Linked DNA regions of Homo sapiens. The protein of the gene in region 2 interacts with the protein of the main gene of each other region in a pairwise test. Each region holds a gene or a part of one and is shown on either strand. Other genes may lie near its edges.

Evidence for each region.
Region 1: the proteins of PRRC2A (region 2) and CCR10 interact in a two-hybrid assay, tested with the Homo sapiens proteins (one study listed by BioGRID and IntAct).
Region 3: the proteins of PRRC2A (region 2) and PRMT2 interact in a two-hybrid assay, tested with the Homo sapiens proteins (one study listed by BioGRID and IntAct).
Region 4: the proteins of PRRC2A (region 2) and UBAP2L interact in a two-hybrid assay, tested with the Homo sapiens proteins (one study listed by BioGRID and IntAct).

What each region holds. Positions count from the first base shown.
Region 1 is NC_000017.11:42,678,830-42,685,676, reverse strand, and holds CCR10 (C-C chemokine receptor type 10), read left to right. Parts: upstream 1-3,833; 5' UTR 3,834-3,853; coding exon 3,854-3,877; intron 3,878-5,059; coding exon 5,060-6,124; 3' UTR 6,125-6,788; downstream 6,789-6,847. Other genes in the region: CNTNAP1 (contactin-associated protein 1 precursor), read right to left, coding at 257-460, 539-686, 1,448-1,641, 1,755-1,856, 2,781-2,847. UniProt on the Homo sapiens protein: Receptor for chemokines SCYA27 and SCYA28. Subsequently transduces a signal by increasing the intracellular calcium ions level and stimulates chemotaxis in a pre-B cell line.
Region 2 is NC_000006.12:31,616,110-31,623,715, forward strand, and holds the start of PRRC2A (protein PRRC2A), read left to right. Parts: upstream 1-4,605; 5' UTR 4,606-4,749; intron 4,750-6,580; 5' UTR 6,581-6,680; coding exon 6,681-6,792; intron 6,793-6,969; exon of another isoform or gene 6,970-7,101; intron 7,102-7,606. Other genes in the region: AIF1 (allograft inflammatory factor 1), read left to right, coding at 1-401. UniProt on the Homo sapiens protein: May play a role in the regulation of pre-mRNA splicing.
Region 3 is NC_000021.9:46,631,454-46,638,677, forward strand, and holds the start of PRMT2 (protein arginine N-methyltransferase 2), read left to right. Parts: upstream 1-4,220; 5' UTR 4,221-4,310; intron 4,311-4,985; 5' UTR 4,986-5,094; intron 5,095-5,442; 5' UTR 5,443-5,498; coding exon 5,499-5,537; intron 5,538-7,224. UniProt on the Homo sapiens protein: Arginine methyltransferase that methylates the guanidino nitrogens of arginyl residues in proteins such as STAT3, FBL, histone H4. Acts as a coactivator (with NCOA2) of the androgen receptor (AR)-mediated transactivation.
Region 4 is NC_000001.11:154,244,951-154,251,972, forward strand, and holds part of UBAP2L (ubiquitin-associated protein 2-like), read left to right. Parts: intron 1-1,253; coding exon 1,254-1,425; intron 1,426-4,288; coding exon 4,289-4,487; intron 4,488-6,090; coding exon 6,091-6,368; intron 6,369-6,530; coding exon 6,531-6,703; intron 6,704-7,022. UniProt on the Homo sapiens protein: Recruits the ubiquitination machinery to RNA polymerase II for polyubiquitination, removal and degradation, when the transcription-coupled nucleotide excision repair (TC-NER) machinery fails to resolve DNA damage.

The DNA.
Region 1 (6,847 bases), on a different chromosome or scaffold from region 2:
GAGGGAACTGAGGCTCGGAAGTGCCCCATCCGAGGTCACATCTCTGTGTAGTGGTAGAGCTGAGACTGGAATCCAGTTCTCACTCAACTCCAGTGTTTTGCTAGCACCAAATGCTACAAGAAAGGGGCAGTTTGGTCCAGGCCTTAGAGAAGTGGAAGACCAGGCTGAGCGCGGATGCGCGGAGGAGGTGCCACGAGGAGGGCGGTGAGAGAGCTTCAGGGGTTGGCTCCGCATCGCACATGGTCGCCGAGCTCACCCAGGCTCATGTGCAGCAGCAGGTGTGCCCCCTCCAGCTCGAGCGTCACGTAGTCGCCCTGGGCGCCCTCGGCGTGCAGCAGAAGACCGTCCTTCTCCTCGGTCTTGAAGCTGAAGGCGAACACGTCCCACAGGCTTCGGCTGACCCCTCGCGGGAAGCGGTAGGAGATGGCATCGTCGCCGTCGAAATAGAGTATGTCGGCCTCTGCGCAAAGGACCGTAGGTGGGCCGGGAACTGGGGAGGCTGTCTCCCAGGCCCCCTCCGCGCTCTCTGCACACTTACTGTATGGGCAGCCATAGAGGCCGAGCCTCAGGCCGATCTTGCCGCGTGGGTTCCAGGCCAGGGGCACGATGCGGATGTAGCGCGCAGTGAAGTGGAAGTGCAGGTCATGGCGCACCACCGCCGACTCGTTCACGTTACCAAAGAAGGTCTGCGGGGGTGGAGGAGAGTAGTAACCACGTCCTGCCCTCTGCTTCTTTTTTTTATTTTATTTTTTGAGACAGAGTCTCGCTCTGTCGCCCAGGCTGGAGTGCGGTGGTACGATCTCGGCTCACCGCAACCTCTGCCTCCCGGGTTCAAACAATTCTCTTCCTCAGCCTCCCAAGTAGCTGGGATTACAGGCGCCCGCCACTACGCCCGGCTGATTTTTTTGTATTTTTCATAGAGACGGGGTTTCACCATGTTGGCCAGGCTGGTCATGAACTCCTGACCTCGTGATCCACCTGCCTCGGCCTCCCAAAGTGCTGGGATTACAGGCGTGAGCCACTGCGCCCGGCCCCCCTCTGCTTCTTTCTCCATAGCCTCCCAGCCCACAACTTTCACACCCAGCCAATCTCGACTTCTGGAAAGTAAACACTCCTTGGTCTTCCCTGCTTGGCGGCTTTGCCCGCACAGTTTCCATAAAGTGCCCTGTCCCACAATCCTATTATTTCCTCAGACCTGAAATCAAATGTCACCTCCTTAGGAAGCTCTCCCAGGTTTTACCCTAAAGTGTGTTAAACCCTGTGAACCGAGTGTTTCGCGCACGTCCTAAGCTGACAGTCCCTCTGGACAGAGTCCCTGGAGTGGAGTCACTGCTCCTTGTCCGAGCCCTCACCACCACCCCCTCCATTTTCCCAGAGGCTGGTGCCCGGCCCAGAGCCTGGAGCAGAGGAAGCTCCCCAAGTGTTACCGCCTTGGCGCCCAGAGTACCGAGTTGTGCCCTCGCTGGTAGAACGGTGTCCAGCTGTCCACTCGGTCGCCGTAGAGTAGCATGTAACGTGTGACCCAGTCCCAAGAATTAAAGGAGCCCTGTGTGGCCACGGCCCGGATCCGGTGCTTCTTCATTAAGTCTATCTGGAGCCAGGGATTCGGATCCCCAATCCGTGGTGACCACCCGCTTATGCCTATAGAAAGGACAGGAGCTTTAACCGGCTATCCCTCTCCCCGAAGTCCTCCGGAGGCCCCCACCCTTCCGCGGTGCGCTGCCAGTTGGCAGCTGATGTTCCGCGGAGCTCACCGTGCAGCCTGGCGAATCTCGGCGCAGTAAGGAGACTGTAGTAGGAGGAGGCGCCCAGGGAGCGTGCATACAGGGGACCCACCAGCTCCTCGTCGCAGCCGTCTAGGGTAGGGAAACCGACTGTTAGTCAGCGCTGGCCCCTCCCAGACCCTTCCAAAGGCCGGCCCACTTAGCGACCGAAGCTTCCCCTTCCGTGCCCCCAACCCCCGCCCCCAGAGGCACACCCAGCCCTACCTTAAAGCCATCTATTCAATCCTGGCTGCAGCAACAGCTGCATGCTCAGAGGAGGCTACCTTCTCCTTCTAGGCAAACCCCTAGGCTACACCTATAGGCCCAAGGCCAGACCCTCCCTAGCTAGCCCAATACCTGCCCTGGTTTAGTACTTTCCCAAACTCAATCCTAAACCTCAGCATCTTCCACAACCTAAGTCAACCCAAGACACCAATCCAGCTCCAACCCTAGCCTCAATCCAACTCGGCCCCCAAAACCTGCACCATCCCCAAATACAGGCCTTGCACCCAACCTCAGCCAGTGCTAGCACCATCACCAGCTCCATGTCCAGCCTTAGCATCAGTCAGGGGCACCAGCTCCTGCTTGGATCCCTGCCACAAAACCCAGCCCCAGCCACAAACCCCAGCCCTAGCCACAAACCCCACCCCTTGGCCAGCTCCAAAGTCCAGCCTTAAGCCCTGGCAAAACCTTAATCCTAGTATCGGTCACCAGTATACACTTATCCCCCAGCCCTAGCCTCAAACCCAGGCACCAGCTCCTGCTTGGATCCCAACCCCAAATCCCTGCCCGCTGACTTCATCCTCTTCCCAGAGCCCAGCCCCAGCCCCGGGCGCGCGCGGCAGCCTCAGAGCTGCAATGCGGAGCGCGGGGGAGAGGCAGGAAAAGATGAGAGCCAGCGGGCGCGCGCCGGCCGGGAAGGACCCGCGACCACCCAGCCGCAATGCGGTTCGGGGCCGCCCTGCAGGCTCTGGACTCCTGGGCCCAACCCCACCTGCCTCCAAGCCCAACACTCACAGTAGCCCCAGCCCTCGGCTCCTGAGACCGCGGCGAGCAGGATGCAGAAGAGCCGGAGATGCATCATGCAGGGCTGACGGTCCCGGCAGCCGCCTCCCTGTGAACGGCTCCGGCTAGGGCTCGAGTTCTGGCTTGGGCTCCAAGCTCTCCTCCTGGGGTTTGCAGCAGACCGCTCTCTCCTCCTTACCCACCCTTCCCTCCCTCTCTCCTTTCGCCCCCAAGCGCTCTGTCTCTCCTCTCTCTTTTCTCTCTCTCTCTCTCTGGTTCCTGGTCCTCCGCTCTTCTCTCTCTATCCTCTCCTTTCCACCCTCTTTCCTCTCACCTCCCCCCTTCCCCAGCCTCTGTCTCCTGGCACGCGCCGGTTTCCCGGACCCCGCGCAAGCGCGTGCCTCAGCCCTGCTGCGAAAGGGCGGGGGTAGAGAGCCTCTCGCCACCGGGAAAACCCCAAGTAACCCGAGGCTGCCCGGGACTAGGGCCACAGGAGTGAGGACAGGGAACCTAGGGCCAGAAGCATCCTGAAAATTTCAAGAAAAGGGAGGTGGTTTGGGGGAGGGGTGCCTGGAAATGGAATGAAGGGTAAGTAAAAGAATCTTAACATTTTCGGAAGGCAAATTATGCTCTAGGAGTGGTGCTGGGCACTGTGAATTTAGCATTTTTGCCCTACTCCACTTTGCAGATGAAAAACCTCAGGCTCAGAGAGGTCAAGAAACTTAGTCAATATCACACAGCAAATGATTATATTCCGAAGCCCGTTCTTTCTTCACTGACAAAGACAGTAAATTATTTTTTCTTTCTTTCGTTCATTCTTTTTTCTTTCTTTCCTTCCTTTTTTTCTTTCTTTCTTTCTTTCTTTCCTCTTTCCTTCCTTTCTTCTTCTTTTTTTTTTTTTCGTAAAATCCAGATCCTGCACAAGAGAGTGAAGTCTTTTGGAGGAGGTGGAATGGGAAAGTGACCCCGTAGACCCTAATCCCCACCTCCCTCTCGGCCCCTCTCCCCGCCTCTTCCTTCCTGTCCCGCTAGTAGTTTAACTTCTACCCCCTGTGGCTATACCTCAGAAACCTGTGTAGCCAGAGATGGGGACGGAGGCCACAGAGCAGGTGGGAGTGGGGGCAGGGAGGGGGAGAAGGGTTACAGAGAGGGAGGAGACAGGGAAGGAATGGGATTCCCCACCTGGCAATGGGCCTCTGCCATCCTATGGCTTATTCAGGATTCTTGGCGCTGTCTCAGACTAGGGGTCCTCCAGATAAATGGGCTGGTGGTGTGAGGCTGGGGTTGTGGGACAGGGACTAGGGCTGAGGGGAAAGGCGGGTTGAACCTAGAGGTCCAGGGTCCCACCTGGGCCCTGAAAACCTGAGTCCCAACCCTGGAGACCCCCTTGGCATGAGTGGTTCAGTGTGCTGGTATTGGAGGTACAGGGAAGGTGGGTATGGAAGGGAAAGAAGAGAAACAGAAACCCACTCCAGACGGAGGTTGGAGTCCAGGGCTCAGGTCTGAGGCAAAGCCTGCATATGGGCATCCTTCCAGGAGAGGGCGCTGCAAAGGGAACTGAAGCTGTAGGATTTATTAATAATACAAACTTTGGGCTGGGCGTGGTAGCTCAGGCCTGTAATCCCAGTACTTTGGGAGGCCAAGGTGGGCGGATCACCTGAGGTCAGGAGTTCGAGACCATCCTGGCCAACATGGTGAAACCCCATCTCTACTAAAAATACAAAAATTAGCTGGGCGTGGTGGTGGGCGCCTGTAGTCCCAGCTACTTGGGAGGCTGAGGCAGGAGAATCTCTTGAACCCGGAGGCGGAGGTTGCAGTGAGCCGAGATCGTGCCACTGCACTCCAGCCTGGGCGACAGAGCAAGACTCTGTCTCCAATAATAATAATAATAAATAATAATAATAATACAAACTTTGTATTATGGCCTTTGGAGAACACAGGTTCTCCCCATCCATTATTTTCCATATTGCCATCTTCACAGCAAACCTTGAGAGGTGGGCTGGTCAGGATTTATAATCTCAACATTACAGGTTAGGTAACTGAGGTCTAGAAAGAGCAAGTGGCTTGCTCAAGGTCACCCAGGAAGCTGGAAGCAGAGGTAGGAGGGGTGCAAGGGAAGCCAAGGCCTGCTGAAGGTGTGCTAGGAAGAGTCTGGAGAAGAGCTTATGTCTCCCCGTGTACTGTTACATCTGGCCACACAGGAGCTCTCAGCTTGGAAGGCAAGTGTGGGCGGGGGAGTTGTGTGGTCAGATGTGTCTCATAAGATCCCGCCTCTCATTTGACCCTCCCAGGTTTCCTGGGGCCATTACTCTGGGGATGAAGAGGACGCATACTCGGCTGAGCCACTGCCGGAGCTTTGCTACAAGGCCGATGTCCAGGCCTTCAGCCGGGCCTTCCAACCCAGTGTCTCCCTGACCGTGGCTGCGCTGGGTCTGGCCGGCAATGGCCTGGTCCTGGCCACCCACCTGGCAGCCCGACGCGCAGCGCGCTCGCCCACCTCTGCCCACCTGCTCCAGCTGGCCCTGGCCGACCTCTTGCTGGCCCTGACTCTGCCCTTCGCGGCAGCAGGGGCTCTTCAGGGCTGGAGTCTGGGAAGTGCCACCTGCCGCACCATCTCTGGCCTCTACTCGGCCTCCTTCCACGCCGGCTTCCTCTTCCTGGCCTGTATCAGCGCCGACCGCTACGTGGCCATCGCGCGAGCGCTCCCAGCCGGGCCGCGGCCCTCCACTCCCGGCCGCGCACACTTGGTCTCCGTCATCGTGTGGCTGCTGTCACTGCTCCTGGCGCTGCCTGCGCTGCTCTTCAGCCAGGATGGGCAGCGGGAAGGCCAACGACGCTGTCGCCTCATCTTCCCCGAGGGCCTCACGCAGACGGTGAAGGGGGCGAGCGCCGTGGCGCAGGTGGCCCTGGGCTTCGCGCTGCCGCTGGGCGTCATGGTAGCCTGCTACGCGCTTCTGGGCCGCACGCTGCTGGCCGCCAGGGGGCCCGAGCGCCGGCGTGCGCTGCGCGTCGTGGTGGCTCTGGTGGCGGCCTTCGTGGTGCTGCAGCTGCCCTACAGCCTCGCCCTGCTGCTGGATACTGCCGATCTACTGGCTGCGCGCGAGCGGAGCTGCCCTGCCAGCAAACGCAAGGATGTCGCACTGCTGGTGACCAGCGGCTTGGCCCTCGCCCGCTGTGGCCTCAATCCCGTTCTCTACGCCTTCCTGGGCCTGCGCTTCCGCCAGGACCTGCGGAGGCTGCTACGGGGTGGGAGCTGCCCCTCAGGGCCTCAACCCCGCCGCGGCTGCCCCCGCCGGCCCCGCCTTTCTTCCTGCTCAGCTCCCACGGAGACCCACAGTCTCTCCTGGGACAACTAGGGCTGCGAATCTAGAGGAGGGGGCAGGCTGAGGGTCGTGGGAAAGGGGAGTAGGTGGGGGAACACTGAGAAAGAGGCAGGGACCTAAAGGGACTACCTCTGTGCCTTGCCACATTAAATTGATAACATGGAAATGAGATGCAACCCAACAACTGTTACTATTTTTGAGTCACCGACTTGGAAGTGATTTGTGGCGGGGCAGAACCGGTGGGTTAACACCCCGCCCCCGCCCCACCCCCCGCCCTGCCCCGCGCTTGGCTCTCTGAGTGGAAGACGCTGAGGGCCTGGGTGGGGGTGGGGGGCTGCTGAGTCTGCTAAAGCTCTAGCCACTGACACCCCCTCCACCGTCACCTGGCCTCAGCCAACAGAGGTGAGGTGGGAAAGCTGCCAGGCAAGGAGGGGCGGTGGTTCCTCTTGCAATACTGTAAGGAAGAGCTTTCTAACAACCAGAGCGCTCTCCAGTAATGGCTGCCTTAGCAAATACTGAGTTCCCGCTATTGGAATGTTCAGACTGTCGGGGACGCTGTGGGCCTTTGCGTGGTGTGGGGGGAGGGGGAGGGGCAGGGGATTCCCGTTTTTGGTGGGCGTTTGGATTTCATAACCACTTTACAATCCCTTCCTAGTGTCTGTGATGGAAAGAAAAAATGAAAAAATGAATTGTAAAATTTGAGTTGAAGTTTTTCCACCTTGAAGAAAAACCTAGGAGGGATTGCAATCTGCAAAT
Region 2 (7,606 bases):
ACATGGAGTTTGACCTTAATGGAAATGGCGATATTGGTGAGAAACGGGTGATTTGCGGGGGCAGGGTGGTGTGCAGGCCTAAGAAGACAGAGGTCTCTCCTACATGCTCCATTCCTCATGATTTGGGAGGGGGCCCACCTACCACAGTGGGAGGAAGGAGAATGGGGATGCGGAAGTGGGAGAGGAGAGAGAGGGTCTCCCCACCTTCTCCCCATCCCCATCCTCTGCCCCCAGATATCATGTCCCTGAAACGAATGCTGGAGAAACTTGGAGTCCCCAAGACTCACCTAGAGCTAAAGAAATTAATTGGAGAGGTGTCCAGTGGCTCCGGGGAGACGTTCAGCTACCCTGACTTTCTCAGGATGATGCTGGGCAAGAGATCTGCCATCCTAAAAATGTGAGTGTCAATTTCCAACCTCCCCTGTACTTACCTGTTTTCTCCTCCCCCATCCCTACCCTTGTCCACAGGCTCAACATTTCTACACGTTGCCCATCATCCCTTCTTCCATCCTTAGAGGGACCCTTCCAAGGTCCCGACCCCATCCCTATCCATAGTCCTGGTCCCCAGAAACTCCAACCCCTGCCCTTCCTCTTCCCCCTTCCACCCTCACATCCCCATCCCCTTCTAGCCTTTCCTAGCACCCTATGATTTATTCCCTTGAGAGGAGTGTTCCCTGATCCCTGTGCCTCTTCCCATCTCAACCAGGATCCTGATGTATGAGGAAAAAGCGAGAGAAAAGGAAAAGCCAACAGGCCCCCCAGCCAAGAAAGCTATCTCTGAGTTGCCCTGATTTGAAGGGAAAAGGGATGATGGGATTGAAGGGGCTTCTAATGACCCAGATATGGAAACAGAAGACAAAATTGTAAGCCAGAGTCAACAAATTAAATAAATTACCCCCTCCTCCAGATCAAGTCAGCTTAGTTTTTATTTGGGTGATTTTTTTCCTGGGTTTGGGAAGGAGAGACAGGTCTTGAGGGAAAGGTGGCAAGGATTTGGCCATATGAACAATCCATCAACAACGCTATAGTGTGTCCACTACAGCAGATGGTTTCACGCACCAAGGGGGATTCCAGCTGTGTAAGACAGCCTTAACCTCAAAGAATGCAGGCAGGTCAAAAACACATGTCCAAACAAGGTACTCAGGCCCATGACAGATTTCATGAAGAGCAAGGAATACCATGAACCAACATTCTCCACCACTATAAGCTTTGTCACTTTGACAAATCACTCAGCCTCTGTGAGGCTTTTTTCTAAAAATGGGGATAAAGTGACCTATGCTATTGTGCCTGACATATCATAAGCCCTCAATAATGTTTAAAACTTGAATGAGCCGGGGCCGATGGCTTATGCCTGTAATCCCAGCACTTTGGGAGGATGGGGTGGGCAGATCACCTGAGGTCAGGAGTTCGAGACCAGCCTGACGAACATGAAGAAACCCCGTCTCTACTAAAAATACAAAATTAGCCTGGTGTGGTGGCGCATGCCTGTAATCCCAGCTACTTGGGAAGCTGAGGCAGGAGAATCTCTTGAACCCAGGAGGTGGAGGTTGTGGTGATCCGAGATCGCATCATTGCACTCCAGCCTGGGCAACTAAAAAGCGAACTCCGTCTCAAAAAAAAAAAACCGAACATACAAACAAACAAAAAACACTTGAATGGGTAGATGAATGAAAGAACTGGTGCTATTAAATAAAGCAAAGAATTTACAGCTGGGCGTGGTGGCTCACGCCTGTAATCCCAGCACTTCAGGAGGCCGAAGCGGGCAGATTACCTGAAATCAGGAGTTGGAGACCAGCCTGGCCAACATGGTGAAACCCCATCTCTACTAAAATACAAAAAATTAGCTGGGCATGGTGGCAGGTGCCTGTAATCCCAGCTACTCGGGAGACTGAGGCAGGAGAATCGCTTGAACCCGGGAGGTGGAGGTTGCGGTGAGCCGAGATCACGCCATGGCACTCCAGCCTGGGTGACAAGAGTGAGACTCTGTCTCAAAAAAAAAAAAAAAAAAAAAAAAAGACTGGAAGGAGAAACTCATTGGAGACAATGACTATGGACATCCCTTTTAAGAATTTTGCTGCAAAGGGTAACAAAACGGTATGTGTGGTAGCCGGCCGGGGAGAAGGGAGAAGAGAATCATTTTGGAAGTTTGAAAACAGAAGTCATCTTAAATCTTACTGAGCCTCTGACTAAAATTCTCATCTGATTTCCGCAAACTTTTCTGCCTTCACTTTTCATAATGAATAAGCCGCCTCCTTTATTTAGCCATATCAGCCTAGGCACAGGCCCCCAAACTCATGCCTCCACTAATCTGTTCTCTGCACCTGAGATGTACACCTTCTTCTGAAACTTGGGTAAGTTCTAACTCGTTCTTCATATCTATTTATTTATATATTTTTGACAGATATCTACTCCGATCATTCTTCATATCATTTTTTTTTTTTTTTCCTGAGATGGAGTCTCATGTTGGCCAGGCTGGTCTCCAACTCCTGACCTCAGGTGACCCACCCACCTTGGCCTCTCAAAGTGCTGGGATTACAGGCGTGAGCCACTGCTCCCGCTCCCGGCCCTTTTTTTCTTCTTTTTCTTTTTTTTTTTTTTTTGAGACGTAGTCTCACTCTGTCGCTAGGCTGGAGTGCAGTGGCGTGATCTCAGCTCACTGCAACCTCCGTCTCCCAGGTTCAAGCGATTCTCCTGCCTCAGCCTCCCAAGTAGCTGAGACTACAGGCACGCGCCACCAGTCCAGCTAATTTTTGTATTTTTAGTAGAGACGGGGTTTTGCCATGTTGGCCAGGATGGTCTCCATTTCTTGACCTTGTGATCTGCCCGCCTCAGCCTCCCAAAGTGCCAGGACTACAGGCATAAGCCACCACGCCCGGCCTCATATCTCTTAATAAGAGTTTTTCTAGAAACATTTCTCAATCACCCCAGGCATAATCATATTTTATTTCTCTACTTCTTTCTTTTTTTTTTTTTTTTGAGATAGAGTTTCGCTCTTGTTGCCCAGGCTGGAGTGCAATGGCACGATCTTGGCTCACCACAACCTCCGCCTCCCAGGTTCAAGCGATTCTCCCGACTCAGCCTCCCGAGTAGCTGGGATCATAGGCATGCGCCACCACGCCTGGGTAATTGTATTTTTAGTAGAGACGGGGTTTCTCCATGTTGGTCAGGCTGGTCTCGAACTCGTGACCTCAGGTGATCCGCCCGCCTGAGCCTCCCAAAGTGCTGGGATTACAGGCGTGAGCCACCGCGCCCATCCTTCTTTTTTTTTTTTTTTTTTTTTTTTTTTTGAGACGTAGTCTTGCTCTGTCACCCAGGCTGGAGTGCAACCTCCGCCTCCCTGGTTCAAGGAATTCTCTGCCTCAGCTTCCCGAGTAGTTGGGATTACAGGCGCCCGCCACCACGTAGGGCAAATTTTTGTATTTTTAGTAGAAATGGGGTTTCATCATGTTGGCCAGGCTGGTCTTGAACTCCTGATCTCGTGATCCACCTGCCTAGGCCTCCCAAAGTGCTGGGATTACAGGCGTGAGCCACCGCGCCAGGCCTTATTTCTCTACTTCTATAATATCCTGTGCATTATCTCCAGCGCCTTCAAATCATAGTCATTGAATGATCTGTTGAATGGGTATAACTCTGATGGGAGCAGAGAGTTCTAGAATCGGGTAGTAAGAGACAAAGGAGGGTAACAGTACTGCATTTCACAAAATGAAACCCATTGTTAAGAAATTACAAATTCCCAATAATTTCAAATATAAAAATTTATTCATGAAAATTATAGGTTATAAAATTAAATGTCCGTCTTAGTCGATGGTTGCCCATATTTTGATGAACGAGTCATTCCTAGCCTATCTTTGTTCAAATGATTTGCATACATTATGCAAATAGGTAGAACTGCCCGAAGAATGCCTACGCTGCGTGGTGCGGACGAAACGCTTCCCGGGGCCTTTGGATTGGTCTGTCTAGCCACCTCATTTGCATGACGTAATATAATAACTGGAAGGCCCCGCCCCTCTGGTGCATTTCCCCGCTCCAACCACCTCCTCAAACTCACGGCAAAGGGATGCGAGAGCTGGAACTCTTACCAGGCCTGCGGAAACTCAGCCCTCCGGCAGCTAATCCCGCCCGCCAGCCCCCGTCCTCTCTCTCTTTCTCCCTAGCTGAAGGCGCCACGGGCCGTGTGTCGTTGCCTTCCACTTTTGGCGTCCCAACGTCTCTCCGCTCCCATCTTTCTACTAACGTCCGACGCACGCTCCGCCTCTTTCTCCCACATTCGTCGTGTAAATTCTGCGTCCCAACCGCCCAGCCGACCTGCACCGCATTCCCGCCCCCTCAACACGGCTCAACGGCCGACGCTGGGGGCCCGCCTCCTTAGCCAATCGGGGTCCTAGTGCCCTTAAGTCCCTCCTCTTTATGCAAATAACCTCCGCATGCTCCGCGCGCCCGGCCCTTTTTTTTTTTTTTTTAAACTAAAGACAGCCCTGGAAGTAGAGGGTTAGGGTAGAAAGTGCCCCGCCCTTTATGCAAATTAAGGGGCGTGTCTAGGCGCGGAGGGAGGTGGGAGGTGGGAGGGGGTGCTCCCGGGGGCGGCGGTTGCCCGGATGGGCCGTTAGTCGGGGCTCAGCCGCGGAGTGAGCGAGGGAGACGGGAGGAGCCGAACCCGGCGCCATCCGCCGCCATCCTCCCCCGCCCCACCGCCATCCCGTCCCGGGGAGCCCCTAGGCCCGGGTCCCGGATCCCCGCGCACCCGGCCAGGTGAGTCTGGGTGAACCGTGCGCTGACGCCCTTTTCCGGCGCGGGAGAGGTGGTGGCGGTGGCGGTGGCGGCGGCGGCGGCGGTGGTGGGCCGGGGGGAGGAGAAGCTGCCATTAGCCGCCGCCATTTTGTCCTCCTGCTGCCGGGCCTGCTTGCCCCTCCCCCTCCGGTACCTCTACTCCGGGACCCGCACCTCCGGCAGTTCATTCAGGATCCGTAGTCTGCCCCTAACCACCCACCGTCTTGGCTTCAGGGGGTGACCCCTGCGCCTGGGTCCGTAACTCCCTACCCTCCGCTGCGCTCCTGGCTTTTCACCCCCATTTGTGGGCCCCCTCCCCGGCTGCCGCCCCGTGGTGGTGGGCCGCGCCCGACGGTTCTCTCGGAAGGGCGCTTTTCCTCCATATTGGACCCCCTCCTATCATCCAGCGCTGTGTTCCCCCCTCTGGACGCCCCTCTTCGTGTCGAGCCACTCCCACTCTAGAATCCTGCTTTTATCCCAGCATCTTTGCTTTCTATGTTGCTCAGTCGCCCTATGTCTGCTTTTTCATTTTTCCTGTTCCTCGTCTCCTTTCTCCCCCAACCCCGTTTTTCTTCTTGGGCCTCTGCCCCCTTACTTCGTTGTCTACATCCTTTTTTTTTTTGCCATTCCTGTTTCCATATATTTTCCACCTGCTTTCGTATTCATTATTTTCTGTTAGTTTTGGTCTATTCGCTACATGACTCTTGTATTCGTTTTCCCTTCATATATTTATCTTCACAGATTGGCCTCCTCAAACACCTACGAAGCAACATCCATCTTATCTCTAGCTTGTCATAAAGTTCTTTCTCCCCAATTTTAGCTTTCATTCTGGGCCTGTCTGGATTTCCCTGCTTTCTTCCCCACTATTTCTCATCTCTTTACACTGTTCCCGTCCATAAACGAATGCCTGGTCACTCTGGAATGGACTGAGAGACCTGTCGTCCGGCTTGCTTAGGGAGCTGGAGGTATCGAGTAAAGAAACACTGGTGATGGACATTTTTAATGAGGATAGGAAAACGAAGATGGCTCTGGCCTTGGCCCTCTGTTTTCTGGCCCATGGTTACAGGGTGCTAAGGTGGCTCCATAATGCTTTTTCTCAGTTCTTCATATGGTAAAACAGTATTTCATCTGGAGGCGATTTTTTCCAGGAGCCAATACAGGAGCAAGTTTAGGAAAAGATGGGATATTTCAAATACTTGAGGTTCCTATAGCCTGGGAGTATGTACAGCCCTAGTTGTTCTATGAGGATTTCTCTGGTACCAACCCCCATTCCGGCTGAGCAAGCTCATAAAATCCTTAAACTCCCAGCATACCTTCCTGCAAACCTTCCCAGATGGACACGAGGCTGCTGGGCTGGGAGCCTGGGGTACAGGGCCCTGGGGGCATGATTAGGGAGCTTGTGTCCAATAAACAGGGAATCTAAAGTGTTGTTTCTTCTTCTCTGATGGAATTGTATGCTTCTTTTTTAGTTTTCTCTTGCTTGAATTTGTCCTGTTGTAAGTCTCTGAAACGATTTTGGTGGAGAGAGAAGAGATTATTACTTGTAGGGAATTACTCTTTGTAGACAGGCACAAAGGGCAGAGTGTTTATACTAGGAGGATGCTGGATTTTTACTTAGATTTCCTTGACAAAGGTGTCTGGGGGAAAGGAGGGAACATGGCATTTGAGCTATGAGGGAGCTAAGTAGATCATGGTTGCTTGAGAAGAGTGGGCAGTTTACATAGACTGGAGGAAAAGACACCAGAGGGCCTCATATCTGAGTCCCTAATGATAATGCAATGGAGTTTTTAAGTTTCTGTTATGGTCTGTACAGGGGACAGAGACTGAGACACTTGCTGTCTGGCCCACAGGCTCTGGCACGTTTTGGGGGAGGTGCCTGCAGGACCCAACATACTCAATGAGCTTCCAGCGCAATGTCCGATCGCTCGGGGCCGACTGCCAAGGGAAAGGATGGAAAGAAGTATTCCTCGCTCAACCTGTTTGATACGTATAAGGGCAAGTCCTTAGAGATCCAGAAACCCGCTGGTGAGAGTCCTGCAAAGATGCTTCTGATGGTTGAAAGCTAGGCATGCATGGGGCATACGTTTTAGAGCTCTTTAAAGGGAAGTGGCTGTAGTAGAAATACCAAAAGACTAGAGGAGATTTCCCAACTTTACACTGGGTCCTTTAAAGGGGGTGTGGGCTCTGGGTGAACACCAGTTATCCTCCTACAAAGGCGTGTCTGTGGTTCCCTGTCTTTGGACACGTAAGAATTGGAGGAAAATAAATGTGGATTTGGGAAACTTTGAGGCCAGCTTGCTTCTTGCAGGCTCATGATCAACCAATCTCACATAAAAGTATTGAATGTTACATATCTCAGCCTTCTTGATAGGGATTTCATAGATTTTTTTTTTTTTTTTTTTTTTTTTGAGACCAAGTTTAGCTCCTGTTGCCCAGGCTGGAGTGCAATGGTGTGATCTTGACTTACCACAACCTCCACCTCCTGGGTTTAAGCGATTATCCTGCCTCAGCCTCCTGAGTAGCTGGGATTACAGGCATGCGCCACCACACCCGGCTAATTTTGTGTTTTTAGTAGAGACAGGGTTTCTCCATTTTGGTCAAGCTGGTCTTGAACTCCTGACCTCAGGTGATCCGCCTGCCTCGGCCTGCCAAAGTGCTGGGATTGCAAAGTGTGAGCCACCACAATCAGCGCGATTTCAGAGATTATTAAGGGCAGGGGAAGGAATCCCTTCTAAGAGAAGTTTGGAGGAAGTAGGTAATAAAATATTCAACATGTATAAATGTGTCCCAGGATAGGAGGCCATCAGATCTCCCACATGAGGCATTTTCGACCCTCTCT
Region 3 (7,224 bases), on a different chromosome or scaffold from region 2:
CTCCAGCATCTGTTGTTTCCTGACTTTCTAATGATCACCTTTCTAACTGGTGTGAGATGATATCTCATTGTGGTTTTGATTTGCATTTCTGTAATGACCAGTGATGAAGAGTTTTTTTTCACGTTTATTGGCCGCATTAATGTCTTCTTTTGAGAAGGGTTCATTTCTCTTCATTATTTTTTCTCTAATCTTATCTTCACACTTTATTTCATTAAGTTGATCTTCAGTCTCTGATATCCTTTCTTTTACCTGATTGATTTGGCTATTGATATTTGTGTATGCTTCATGAAGTTCTCGTGCTGTGTTTTTCAGCTCCATCAGGCCATTTATGTTCTTCCATTTGGGGCTGGGTTTATAGTTTTGTAACCCCTATGCCAAATGTTGACACCTTATAGTAATTGGCAGGGATAAGTAGGAAATTGCTTGATAAATAAATGCAAACAAAAATGTATGCTGGCAATTCTTAAGACATTTCTAAATTACTTTGCCACTATTTTTAAAGCTAACTTATTTATTAAAGATTTTAAGTAAACTTAACATTTGACTAGTCTTTCCCTTTTTCTAATAAAGTATTTTATTTGAGCACTTTTATTTTTCTTTAATTAATAAATAAATAATTTATTTGAGCACTTTTATTTTTCTTTAAGCCAATTAATTATAGCTCTTCTATATTTTTTAATAGAGAAACATTGTGTACGCAACACATAAATACATAGATGTATTAGGTATACCGATAGAAGTACATCTTATAGATTCCTAAGACCTCTTTTTTTTTTTCTATCTTAGACTTGCAAACTCTTGATCATCTGTGTCATTGCCCTGGCAGTTGCCGGCTAAATAGCCCTAAATCTGCATATTAAAGGAAACTATTAGATGAAAAATTAGATAGCAAAATTTACATTTTAAGGTACAGAGAGGAAAAAGTCTGGTGGTGCTAAAGAGAGATTAAAAATGGATGTGAAATCAAACATAAAATTATGAAAATCTATCATAGGATTGTATAAGGAGACCAGTTTTATTTAGACAGAGACTCCCTATATTTTAACTGGATCTCTGAGCTCTGGGCAGACCCTACACTGAATCCTGGGTCTCCAAAAAGCGAAAATTATTATGAGGTTAGACTACATCATGCTTTTACAGTGCACTTAAAAAACTTTTTTCAACAAAGACATTTCTACATGTCTAAACTATACTATTCCTTAAGAACTCCAGAGTAGCCTCTGTTGCAGTAACTATTTTAGTAAAAAAATTAGGTAACACAATACAAAAGCAAGCAGTTTAAGAGCTGAGATGAAAAAAAAAAAAAGCTGAGATGAACTTGTCTGTTTACACATTTGGGGTTCCATAAGGAAACAGAGGTTTCTCCTCCAAGGGGAATCTGGCACCTTCTCCGTTTTCTGTAAGGAACCCTGGGTATTACAAACTATATTAGGTTTCCCATGAAGCAGAGGGTGCAAGAGAAAGAAGACACGACAAAAGTAAATGAAGAAAACAGAAGCCAGTCAACTAAGAAGAAAAAAACTTTTGCTCAAAAAGACAAGGTCCTAGGAGAGAAAAAAACAAAAAAAACAAAACTGGAAGCCTTTTAAATACAAACACACACACACAGGCACACAACACACATATGTTGGATGTTAGCTTTTAATTAAGCTTTTAACCATTGAGCTCCTTAAAAATAAACTTTTTCAATCTCATTACTGGCTGGGCATGGTGGCTCATGCCTGTAATCCCAACACTTTGGGAGGCCGAGGTAGGCGGATCACTTGAGGCCAGTTTGAGACCAGCCTGGCCAACATGGTGAAACCCCATCTCTACCAAAAAAATACAAAAATGAGCTGGGTGTGGTGGTGCAGGCCTATAATGCCAGCTACTCAGGAGGCTAAGGCATGGGAATCACTTGAACCTGGGAGGTGGAGGTTGCAGTGAGCTGAGATTGTGCCACTGCACCCCAGCCTGGAACACAGAGCCAGACTCTGTCTAAATAAATAAATAAATCTCATTATCATATTTCAGCTAGGACTAATTGCTGCTATTTCAGAAGTACCAAGTATCAAACCAGAAAGGGCTTAATTTAGGAACTAAACCCAGGCTGTGGTGGTGGAAAAAAAGAAGGCAGAACCCTTAGGTATGGAACTGCAGTGTGGGGTGACAGACATTACTCTTTTTGGTTGGTCTGGCTAGCAAAAATGTGGCCTTGTTATGTAAGAAAAGCCCTTTAAGTAGTCAAAATAAATTTTTTTTTTCTTTTTCCTTTTGCTAGCTGTTTTTCTCCCCCCACCACATCACCTTTTGTGTGTGTGTGTGTGGTGGGGAGGGGTTGAAACTTAGCCACTTCAGAGGCCTCACTTCTCATAATTTGGAACTTTCCTTTGGTTTCGATCAAGTCAGATAGAGTTCGTCAAACTCAATGCGAAAAAGACAAAAGAACAAAAAACAGAAACAACAACAAAAAAACCAGTTAAGCGAAACGAAGGATTGGGCAATTTATAAGGTTACTGAGCACACTAATGGTAAGGAGAAATTAAGACCAGCTGGTTGTTAATCTTAATAGCCAAGACAAACCCCAATTCAGTTACTTCCTAGGGATGGGTCTGAGGCTGAAGATTGCTCTCTACCACCCTAGAAGCAGAGGAAGAAAACCCCTCATCTTTCCTGTGGGAAGCGAGCTCAAACTCCATAAACGAGTTACCTGCCTTCCATTGTCATGGAAGCAGGAAAAAACTACTACTTCCTTATGTTGGAAGAGAGTAAAGCACACCCCGCCCCCCAACCCCCGCCCAACACACAAAAGGAGTTGTACAGCAAAATAAACTAGATCTTGACTAAATCTGGGTAGATCAGGGATTCTCTGGAGGGGGTGCTTCCAGGCCTCAGCAAATTGTCCTATTGGTTTGAGCCATAAAGATAGCTCAAGCTGGTACTAAGGACTGACAGATTTGTCAAAGGTCAGTGGCACCTCTACTCAGAATCCCTTTGTGGTTACCAAAATGTGAACCTTGAATATCTGAGTCAGATCTCAGTCAACTTAGGAAGTTTATTTTGCTGAATTTAAGGATGCACGCCCATGACACGGCCGTCGGAGGCCCTGATGACATGTGCCCAAGGTGGTCAGAGCACAGTTTGGTTTTATACGTTTTAGGGAGACATGAGACATCAATCAATATATGTAAGATGAACATTGGTTTGGTCCGGAAGGGCGGGACAACTCAAAGCAAAGGCAGGAGGGAGCTTCCAGGTCATAGGTAAATATGAGACAAATCATTGCATTCCCTTGAGTTTCTGGTTAGCCTCTCCAGAGGTGGCAATCAGATACGCATTTATCTCAGTGAGCTGAGAGATGACTTTGAACAGAATGGGAGGCAGGTTTGCCCTAAGCAGTTCCCAACTTGACTTTTCCTTTTAAGCTTAATGATTTTGCGGCCCCCAAATTTATTTTCCTTCCACATTTTTTTTTTTAAATCAGACTTAAGGTCTGCCTTGATGTTAATGCTGGAGGAGTGTAAAAAGGCATGTCCAACTCTTACTTCCCTTCGAGGCCAGAATAGTCTCTCAGGTTGAACTTCAGGGTCCCCTGGTAAAGGAGGGAGTCCAGTCAGACGGCTGCGGGGGAGGGGGGGCTTCGAATTTTATGTTTTACAGGCATTAGCGCCACCCATTTCTCCTTAACCCCAAACTTCCTCTCCCCACAACAGAAACGTCATCATTCTGCTTCCACTTATCCAGAAGAAAGGCAGAGGGCGCACACTGCGCAGCGCGGATGGGAAAGTTAACTGAATTATTTGCGGGAAGACAGAGGAGGTGGGGGGTCCCCCAAGCCCCAGCCATTTTGTGGCTCGTAGGGGTTGTCGCTTCCCAAGCCGTGAATGGCCCAAACCCGCCCCCCGCCCCAGGTCGGACTCCTGCCCCGCGCCCCTCTGGGTCGGACCCCAAGCCGAGCCCCCCAACCCCGCGGCTGGGCTGGGCGATTGGGGACGAGCTCCACACATGGAGAACCTGGCCTCGCCTCGCAAGACCGCGGGACGCGCAGATGTGAAGTGCGCCTGCGCGGGGCGCAGCCCCAGCTGCAGACGATCTGTGAGCGACGCGCCGGCGCAAGTCGAGGGCGGTGGCTTGGCTTCCCTGGAATGGGGGACGTCTTAGGACTGCGCCTGCGCGGGGCGCCGGGCCCTGGGCGGGGCCTTCCCGGCTGACGGCCTGCGTGCACTGCGCTTGCGCGGGTTGAGGGCGGTGGCTCAGGCTCCTGGAAAGGACCGTCCACCCCTCCGCGCTGGCGGTGTGGACGCGGAACTCAGCGGAGAAACGCGATTGAGGTAGGTGTCCTGATGGGCAGCTCAGATGGCTGGACTGCACGTAAGGAAGGACAGGCCAGGTGAGGCGTCCTCGCACTGCGTGTGCGTCGCTGGCGGACAGAGGCCTCCGCCCCCTTTTGGGACCTCCGAGCGCCTTCGCGATCTCAGCCACTTTCCCTGGCGTCCAAACGGGAGCTCGGTCCCCGTCACACCCTTCCCTGCGTGCCGCACCCCTTCCCGGCCACTCCCGCCGTCCAGCGCCTTCTACGGCCACGCCCACCCCACCACCATCTCTGTCACGCCCTTCGCGGCCACGCCCACCTGCCTGGCGGCCCCTGCCCCGAAGCTCGCGGCGCTGTCCCAGCCTGACCCTCTCGTGCCCCTGCGTCCACGCGTGGCCCTCTCGCTTCCTGCCCCCTTCTCACCCCCCTTCACTGGCCACCTGTTCCAACCCTCCATGATCCTGTTCCTCCCGAGGGCATCTTAGGAGGGCAGGGTCCTGCGCGCACTGCGGCCTCCACTCCGACCCCGTCCCAGTTTGGACCCAGGTCTTCCAATGAAAATATAATTATGCAAATCAGTAAGCATTTGTAACTACGAATATCACAAAAATAAGCTTCAAGTCTGGATTTAGAAGTGAAGCATGCATTTTAAACAAAGAATTGCTATGCAATTTTAAAAACACATTGATCCCAGAGCAGTGTGTGGATTACACTATCACTGGAAAAATACGAATTGAGAAGAAGGAAAAGACTGGAAGATGCAGACCTTGGTTCCTGTTAGTGGAAACACTGTAAGGTCCCAGGTAGGGACTTTTAATTGGAATTAAAGCTATCACACTTCTAAGAAATTAATGAATACTGATTTATTGCCTTAAGTCGACACCTGATCTAACAGAAACTAACAGGCTTCAGCAAATGAACAAGATTAACACCTTGCAGACTAGTGAAGAAAACACACTATTTGAAGTTTATGATTTTTAAATGCTTTTGTCTCTGTAAAGTATTGTAAATTTTCATTTCTACACTAATCTTCACACATACACATTTTACTTCTATTTGGTAGAGGACATCATGCACATTAGAAGTTAAGTGAACTCAATTATTAAGCAATGTAACAAGTACTTTGTGTCTCCTTCTCTTTTTAAAAGTAGAAATGGAAAAGAAAATGAAATAAATCAGCAGTTATGAGGCAGAGCCTAAGAGAACTATGGCAACATCAGGTGACTGTCCCAGAAGTGAATCGCAGGTAATTTCCGTTCCACTTCCTAAAAATCTGTGTTTAATGAATGTGAGCATTACAGAGAGCTAAGCGTCAGCTCACAGATGTGATGGAGCTTGGCTTGTGCCTTGGAAGGTGGCCACCGGCAGTAGAATGCTTAAATGTGAAGATTGTGAGGCAGAGGAAACGCAGTGCCTGTAAGGTGACATCCTGCATTGGGCACCATAACAATTCTAAGGAAATACTTAGCCCCAAAACATCAGCATCATTTAGGGTTCCATTTTTGGTACGTGAACTGGCAAAGCAAGCATATTTTCTGAGCTGTTCAATAAAATTTCAGGCATAATACCAGCAATATATTGAAGGCAAGTTGGACACATTAGAAAAGATTTATGTATTCATACTGTTTCTGCCTGGGGTACTCATGTAGTTTCGTTCAAGTTAGCAGTAAAAAATACCCCTCAAATTGTAAAGACTGTTGATTATGTAAAAGTCACCAACTGAATAATAGATACTGTTTTTAAAAATCAAGCATTTCCGTATCTGTTATGTCAATTTTAATGTTTTCTTTTTTTCTCTTTCATTCCAATGAGCTTTCATTTGGCTTTTTATATATAGGAATTTTATTTATAGTCAGAATCTTTCGTTAATTTCTTTAATTATTCATAAAATGTTTTAATTCCGTGGACATCTTATTTTTCTTTTGAGAAATTTAACAAATATTAGGACATTTCCAGAATGATATTGTAAACATCAAGTACATTAAACAGTGTACATTAAGCTATATATATGTGTGTGTATATACATATATGTGTGTGTGTGTGTGTATATATATATGTATATGTAAAAAATACTGTCGGGTGTGTCTGTAGTTCAGCTACTCAGGAGGCTGAAGCAGGAGAATCACTTGGGGCCGGGAGTTTGAGGATGTGGTGTATTATGATTGTGCCTGTGAATAGCCACTGCATTCCAGCACGGCCAATAAACTGAGACTTCATCTCTTAAAAAAGAAAAAGCGACACTCTAGATAAAGTTTGTTCCCCAGTCTCAGTCCTATTCCTCCTCTTCTCTCTCTAGAGGCAAACACTACTGTGAATCATGAGTCTGTTTTGTGCCACTGCACCATTTTTATACCTCTATGGCTTATATAGATATACTTGAATGACATATGATATTGTTTGTGTGGGCTTTTTAGAGTTTCCATAGTGGTGTCATACTGTCAGTGTCACCTGTAGCTTGCCTCTTCATATAACTTTACCTTTGGGGAAGTTGTCCTTGTTATGTGTGTAATGCTGGTTCAATCCTGCCACTGTAGGGTACTCCTGTAGTGTGTTCCTTCTCTGAAAGTGTAAAGTATCCTATTTGTAGATATGTGTATGGGCCTGTTGCAGTCTCACTGCTACACAGTAGGCATATACCCCATTTTACTTATTCCCTTTTTGTTGGACACTTAAATTGTTTCTAGTTTTTTCTATTTCAAACAATGCTGTAGTGACCATCCGTCTCCATGCCTCTGTGCTCCAGTAATGGCATTGCAGGGTGCAAGGGATTGCAAGTTTCAGTTTTACTGGATAATGATCAGTTGTTCCCCACAATGACTTTACGAGTTCACAGGTCTGTCAGTAGCCCACAATAGTGCTTACTAACACTTGACAGTATCAGACTTTTAAGTTTTGGTCAGTCTCATGGGTTAGAAATGGTATTTTGTTATTTC
Region 4 (7,022 bases), on a different chromosome or scaffold from region 2:
AGACAGAGTCTCACTCTGTTGCCCAGGCTGGAGGGCAGTGGCACAATCTTGGCTCACTGCAACCTCCGCCTCCCAGGTTCAAGCGATTCTCCTGCCTCAGCCTCCCGAGTAGCTGGTATAGTAGGCACCCGCCACCACGCCAGGCTAAGTTTTGTATTTTTAGTAGGGTTTTACCATGTTGGCCAGGCTGGTCTCAAACTCCTGACTTCAAGTATCCGCCTGCTTTGGCCTCCCAAAGTGCCGAGTTACAGGTGTGAGCCACTGCATCCAGCCTTATCTGGTCTTTCTAGTGACCAACCCTCATCCTGAAACTATCTGGGGCCCCACCCTGGGCTACCTCATTAGCATTCAGGTATGGTTGAAAGAAGTGTGTTATGAGTAACAAAGGACACTATCACTTAGGAAATTCTAAATGTTTTAGGAGCTCCATGCCAGGAACAAGGCAAAGCTCAAGTATATATTATACCACAGGTAACTTTTGAAATTTTACGAAAATTGTGGGAAAAAATATCTCTCAGACTGCCCCTGTTCTAAAGCCATTTGAAGATTCCAGTGTTCTGGTATATGATTTTCTGTTTTAGGAATTGGTAATGACAGGTATTCAGTATTAAAATCATGGATAAGTACTTGTAAGTTTTGGCTGAGTTATTGAGCTGCCATGTTAAAACTAGCATTTGAGGCCGGGTGCGGTGCGGTGGCTAACGCCTGTAATCCCAGCACTTTGGGAGGCCAAGGCGGGCGGATCATGAGGTCAGGAGATTGAGACCATCCTGGCTAACACGTGAAACCCCTTCTCTATTAAAAATACAAAAAAAAAAAATTAGCCGGGCGTGGTGGCAGGCACCTGTAGTCCCAGCTACAGGCTGAGGCAGGAGAATGGCGTGAACCCAGGAGGCAGAGCTAGCAGTGAGCCAAGATTGCACCACTGCACTCCAGCCTGGGTGACAGAGCGAGACTTTCTCGAAACAAACAAACAAACAAAAACTAGCATTTGATATTTCATTAAATTAATAACTTCACTTAAAAAATTAACCATTATTATTGGCAACATCAGTGGAATTCAGCTATATACTGTAGTGACTCTTATGCATCAGTTATTTTGGGACATTTAAGCATTTCAAGGCTTTTGTGTTTGAACCCTTTTAGAAGAAGCCCCAGCAAGTGGCTTCATTTTGATCTAATCTGATTTGAGTGTTGGGGAATGTTAGCGTGTTCAGTCATTCTTCATGAAGATCCCTTCCCTTCCCCATTAGAATTGACCTTGCTGTTCTGCTGGGGAAGACACCATCTACAATGGAGAATGATTCATCTAATCTGGATCCGTCTCAGGCTCCTTCTCTGGCCCAGCCTCTGGTGTTCAGTAATTCGAAGCAGACTGCCATATCACAGCCTGCTTCAGGGAACACATTTTCTCATCACAGTATGGTGAGTAGGAAACGTGGTTTATCCTAATCAAACCTTCCTGCTAATCCTAGCACACATACACAGTTCCTTCCAAAGACAGTCAGGTTTTTGGCAGGTGAAGCATCCTCTTTGTCTTCTTAAGCAGACTTGGTTGTAGAAATGTTTGAGTTGGGTAATAGGGGGTAGCTCTAAGAGAGGACTTAGTTCTGGACAGACTGAATATTCTTATAAGAATAAGTTAACATTATTTATTGACTACTCATTGTGCTGAATGAACACCATTTGCCATTACTCTTGAGAGAAAATCAATGACATAAACTTGTCAATACATTTTAATCCTTTTGCAGCCCTCATTAAACTATGATGGGAGATTGTAGCAGTTCCCCATTTCTTGATGGATCAGAATTGTCTTGTATATTTACTTAAACCAGGTATTTGTAGACAAGGCCTCCAGAAACCTATGGTCTTCCCATTTCTGCCACTTACTAGCTGTGTCTCCATTTCTATGTAAATAGGGATAAAAGTGCTAGTCCTTCCCATCTTCCCAAAGGTGGCTATACAAGTGTGGTTTCAGTAGTGATATTATAAATAACTTAGAACTTATGACATATTACTTGTTGACTCAGAGCATTTAAAACATCCAAGGTCATTAACGACATCAAAGGAATCATTTAAACTAAACAAAGATGCTACAAGTACCAGTTTTCTCATAGTCATTGAGTCCTGAGAAGTACTGCTTTTTCTTTTTTTCTCTTTTTCTCTCCTATTTTTTGATGGAGGGATACTAAAGTTGTAAGCAGACCATGTGTGTGCATATAATTTTATTTTTCCAGTTAGAGTAATTAGTTTAACTAGAAAACTGCCAAGCTAGCTACTAATTCAGAACTCGGTCAGTTTTTAATTGTTGTCTTAAAATGTTTTTTGTGTGTGTTAAGTTAGTAATTTGGTGGTCGATGTCCTGCCACATAGGAAAGGTAACAGGTGAGAAGAGGTGGGAGGAGAAGGGAAATGGAGAGAAGTGTTGGGATTAAATAGAAAAAGAAGAAAGAAAATAGGACAAAGGTTGTAAGAAGGTGTAATGAAGATCAAGAAGTAACTACCAACCCTTAAAGATAAATGACTGGAAAATGTGATTATGTGATCTATGTCTCTTAATTGCCCTCTTAATGTCTGGAATTGTGAAAATTTACAACGAAATCAGACTTTTGATATCAAAAAGATGTTTTCAGCTGGGGACAGTGACACGTTCCTGTAGTCTCAGCTACTCTGGAGGCTGAAGTGGGAGGATTGCTTGAGACTAGGAGTTCAAGACTATAGTGAGCTTTGAGCTCACCACTGTACTCCAGCCTGGGTGACAGAATGAAACCCTTTCTCTAAAAAAAAATTTTTTTTAAATAAAAATGTGAAAACTAAGTATAAATACTATTCTGTTTTTTTGTTGCCTGTACTAATCAATATGTTAGATAATGTAATTTCCTTTCTATTGAGAATAAATGTTAGAGGATTAATTTCACTTAAAATTTAATAGAGCTAAATAACATGGGAGTTTCTTTATATTTTTATGTATAATACAGTGAACACTAGGTAATTTTAATTGTTTTTATTTTTTATTTATTTTTTATTTTTTTTTGAGACAGAGTTTCACTCTTGTTGCCTAGGCTGGAGTGCAATGGCGCGATCTTGGCTCACCGCAACCTCCACCTCCTGGGTTCAAGCAATTCTCCTGCCTCAGCCTCCTGAGTAGCTGGGGTTACAGGCGCCCGCCACCACGCTTGGCTAATTTTGTATTTTTAGCAGAGACAGGGTTTCACCATGTTGGTCAGGCTGGTTTAGGACTCCTGACCTAAGGTGAGCTGCCCGCCTCAGCCTCCCAAAGTGCTGGGATTACAGGCGTGAGCCACCGCATTCGGCCCAGTGATTACCCTATAGAACTTGTATGTACATGGAGAAAACAATCAAATCATACTGACTTGCTACTTGATTGTCTAGTGCAGAAGTTGGGATGCCCTTTAACTTTTCCTTTTTGCCTCTGTGCTAGTTATTAGCAGCATCGAGATGAGGCTCCAGTTAATTGTTGTTTCTTTTGAGTTTTTTTAATGAGAAGGGCAAGGACCTTAATGGCAAAAGTAAAATCTTATATTACATTTATGTTAATTGTATTGGTTGATTTAAAAATTCTCGGCTGGGTGTGATGGCTCACGCCTCTAATCCCAGCACTTTGGGAGGCCGAGGCGGGTGGATCACGAGGTCAGGAGATCGAGACCATCCTGGCTAACACAGTGAAACGCTGTCTCTACTAAAAATACAAAAAATTAGCCGGGTGTGGTGGCGGGTGCCTGTAGTCCCAGCTACTCGGGAGGCTGAGGCAGGAGAATGGTGTGAACCTGGGAGGCGGAGCTTGCAGTGAGCCGAGATAGCACCACTGCACTCCAGCCTGGGTGACAGAGCGAGACTCTGTCTCAAAAACAAAAACAAAAACAAAAATTCTCCAGTCAGCCAAATTTTATCCCTGAGAAGCAGGGAGAAGGAAGTAATGATGATATGAAGTTTTAATGGCTCTGTTTTTTTAGTGATTACTATGTGCCATACATGTATTAAGTGCTTTAATTTATTTAATCCTCCTACAGCTTTACTTTTATTCCTATTTCCAGATGAGGAAAGAGAGATTAAAAAATAGTTTTTCCAAGCTTACATAGCCAGGATTTCAATCTAAGACAGTCTGACTCTAGGTCCTATACTCTAGTGGACTATGCTGTATACTCAGTGTGACAGTATTCTTTACTTGCCTGATCTATACTGGCTCTCGGTCTGGATAAGTGTCTTTATGAGTAGCTGAACAAGGTTACTGGCTGTAGGTTTCTCTCATCTCTTTGTTGATCTACAGGTGAGCATGTTAGGGAAAGGATTTGGTGATGTCGGTGAAGCTAAAGGCGGCAGTACTACAGGCTCCCAGTTCTTGGAGCAATTCAAGACTGCCCAAGCCCTGGCTCAGTTGGCAGCTCAGCATTCTCAGTCTGGAAGCACCACCACCTCCTCTTGGGACATGGGCTCGACGACACAATCCCCATCACTGGTGCAGTATGGTGAGAAGATGGAAAGTGACTTGAATCTTTAAAGCATTGGAGCATTACTGTCAAGAGGCTAGCAGGGGGAGGGGGTGGAGAATGTGTCCTGAAGTGAAGAAAAGGGGCAGCTAGTTGGTTACCTTCCCACATGTATTTCCCCTAATCAAATAAGCTGAATTCAAGAAGTTGGGGAATAATAAAATTTGAGGCTATGTATTTCTCATCACATTTAGAGGCTGGGCATGGTAGCTTACACCTGTAATCCTAGCACTTTGGGAGGTTGAAGTGGGAGGACAGCCTGAGCCTTAGGAGTTCAAGAACAGCCTGAGCAACATATCAAGACTCCATTTCTAAAAAAATTGTTTTCAATTAGCTGAGTGCGGTGGTGTGCACCTGTGGTCCCAGCCCCTAGTGAGGGTGAGCTAGTGTGAAGCTAGCTTTCCGCAAAAAAAAAAAAAAAAAGAAAAATTTTTAACCATATACATAGTTGCAGTCTTCTGTTGATTGGGGTTTTAATTATTATTATTATTCTCCTTAGATTTATCTTCAGTGTTTGAAAATAACATATTGCCTCCAGGTTCTTAGGCTTAGCCATCTTAAGACCTTATACAGTAAGTCTTCACTTAATGTCATTGATAGGTTCTTGCGACTTTATGCGAAACATAAGACAAGGTCTAGTTCTGTCATCCAGACCGGAGTACAGTGGCACTATCTTGGCTCACTCATCTTCCTGGGCTCAAGCAGTCCTCCCACCTGAGCCTCCTGAGTAGCTGGGACCACAGGCTTGTACCACCATGCCTGGCTAATTTTTAATTTTTTGTAGAGATGGGTTTTCACCGTGTTGCCCAGGTGTGTCTCTTGGGCTCAGGCGATCTGCTGGTCTTGGCCTCCCAAAGTGATGGGATTGCAGGCGTGAGCCATTGCACCTGGCCATTTTTTTTTCCTCATCAACATTATAATGAAATCATGTTGAAGGAAACAACGTTATGCCAAGATATGCCATGCCTTGTTTTTGCTTAAAGCCAGTTTCCAAGCACCTATGGATGTTAAATGAGAACTTGCGGTACTTTAAACTTGGACAATTTGTGCATTCCTGTCTTACACAGACAGGGTAATGTTGATTTAGTTAGGCTTTATTTAAGGATGGTTGTAGGCCAGGTGCGGCAGCTCATGCCTGTAATCCTAGCACTTCGAGAAGCCGAGGCGGACGGATCACTTGAGGTCAGGAGTTCGAGACCAGCCTGGCCAACATGACAAAACCCCGTGTCTACTAAAAACACAAAAATTAGCCAGGCATGGTGGCGCGCGCCTGTAGTCCCAGCTACTCTGAGGCAAGAGAATTGCTTTAACCCAGGAGTCGGATGTTGAAGTGGGCTGAGATTGCACCATTGCATTCCAGCCTGGGTGACAGAGCAAGACTCCCATCTCAAAAAAAAAAAAAAAAAAAAGATGTAATCCAGTGATTGTCACCTATAGAAATGAGATTAAGCCCCAAAAGAGGGCCTGCTTATATGAGTTTCTGATTTTTACAGTCCTCATTCATGGTGCTAGTGCAGGACAATAGCATTTCCTTGAGATTCATTAGCATCTCTGGCTTCATATACTGGGTTTCCTCTTGCAGATTTGAAGAACCCAAGTGATTCAGCAGTGCACAGCCCCTTTACAAAGCGCCAGGCTTTTACCCCATCTTCAACCATGATGGAGGTGTTCCTTCAGGAGAAGTCACCTGCAGTGGCTACCTCCACAGCTGCACCTCCACCTCCGTCTTCTCCTCTGCCAAGCAAATCCACATCGGCTCCACAGATGTCGCCTGGATCTTCAGACAACCAGTCCTCTAGCCCTCAGCCGGCTCAGCAGAAACTGAAACAGCAGAAGAAAAAAGCCTCCTTGACTTCTAAGGTACTTAAACTTTTAGGTAGATACCATTTTATGGCAAGGGGTGTGGGGCTTGAGAATTGAGATTAAAAGGGTAAGTTTGGAAATTTAAAGGGAAGGGTTTTTTTTAGTCTTTAGTAAGGTTGTATTAAAGCCATTACTTTCTCTTCTCCTTCAACTTTATAGATTCCTGCTCTGGCTGTGGAGATGCCTGGCTCAGCAGATATCTCAGGGCTAAACCTGCAGTTTGGGGCATTGCAGTTTGGGTCAGAGCCTGTCCTTTCTGATTATGAGTCCACCCCCACCACGAGCGCCTCTTCAAGCCAGGCTCCAAGTAGCCTGTATACCAGCACGGCCAGGTAGAGGAAACATTAACCATAAGACCTCTCTTATTAACCTTTACTACTTTTTTAATCTGTGGGAGATTTCTAGAACTCTGGAGAGGCCAAGCCCCTCTGCATGGCTGAGGGGGAAAGTAGTCAGTCATAGCATTTTTAGTGCTTTAAAATATTGTTATTAGGGTTATCTGTAACTAAACAGGTAGAAATATGCCCCTTAGGGGCTGGGTGTGATGGCTGACACTTATAATCCCAGCACTTTGGGTGGCCAAGGCAGGAGGATTGCTTGAGGCCAGGAGTTCAAGACCAGCCTGGGCAACATAATGAGTCCCTGTCTCTA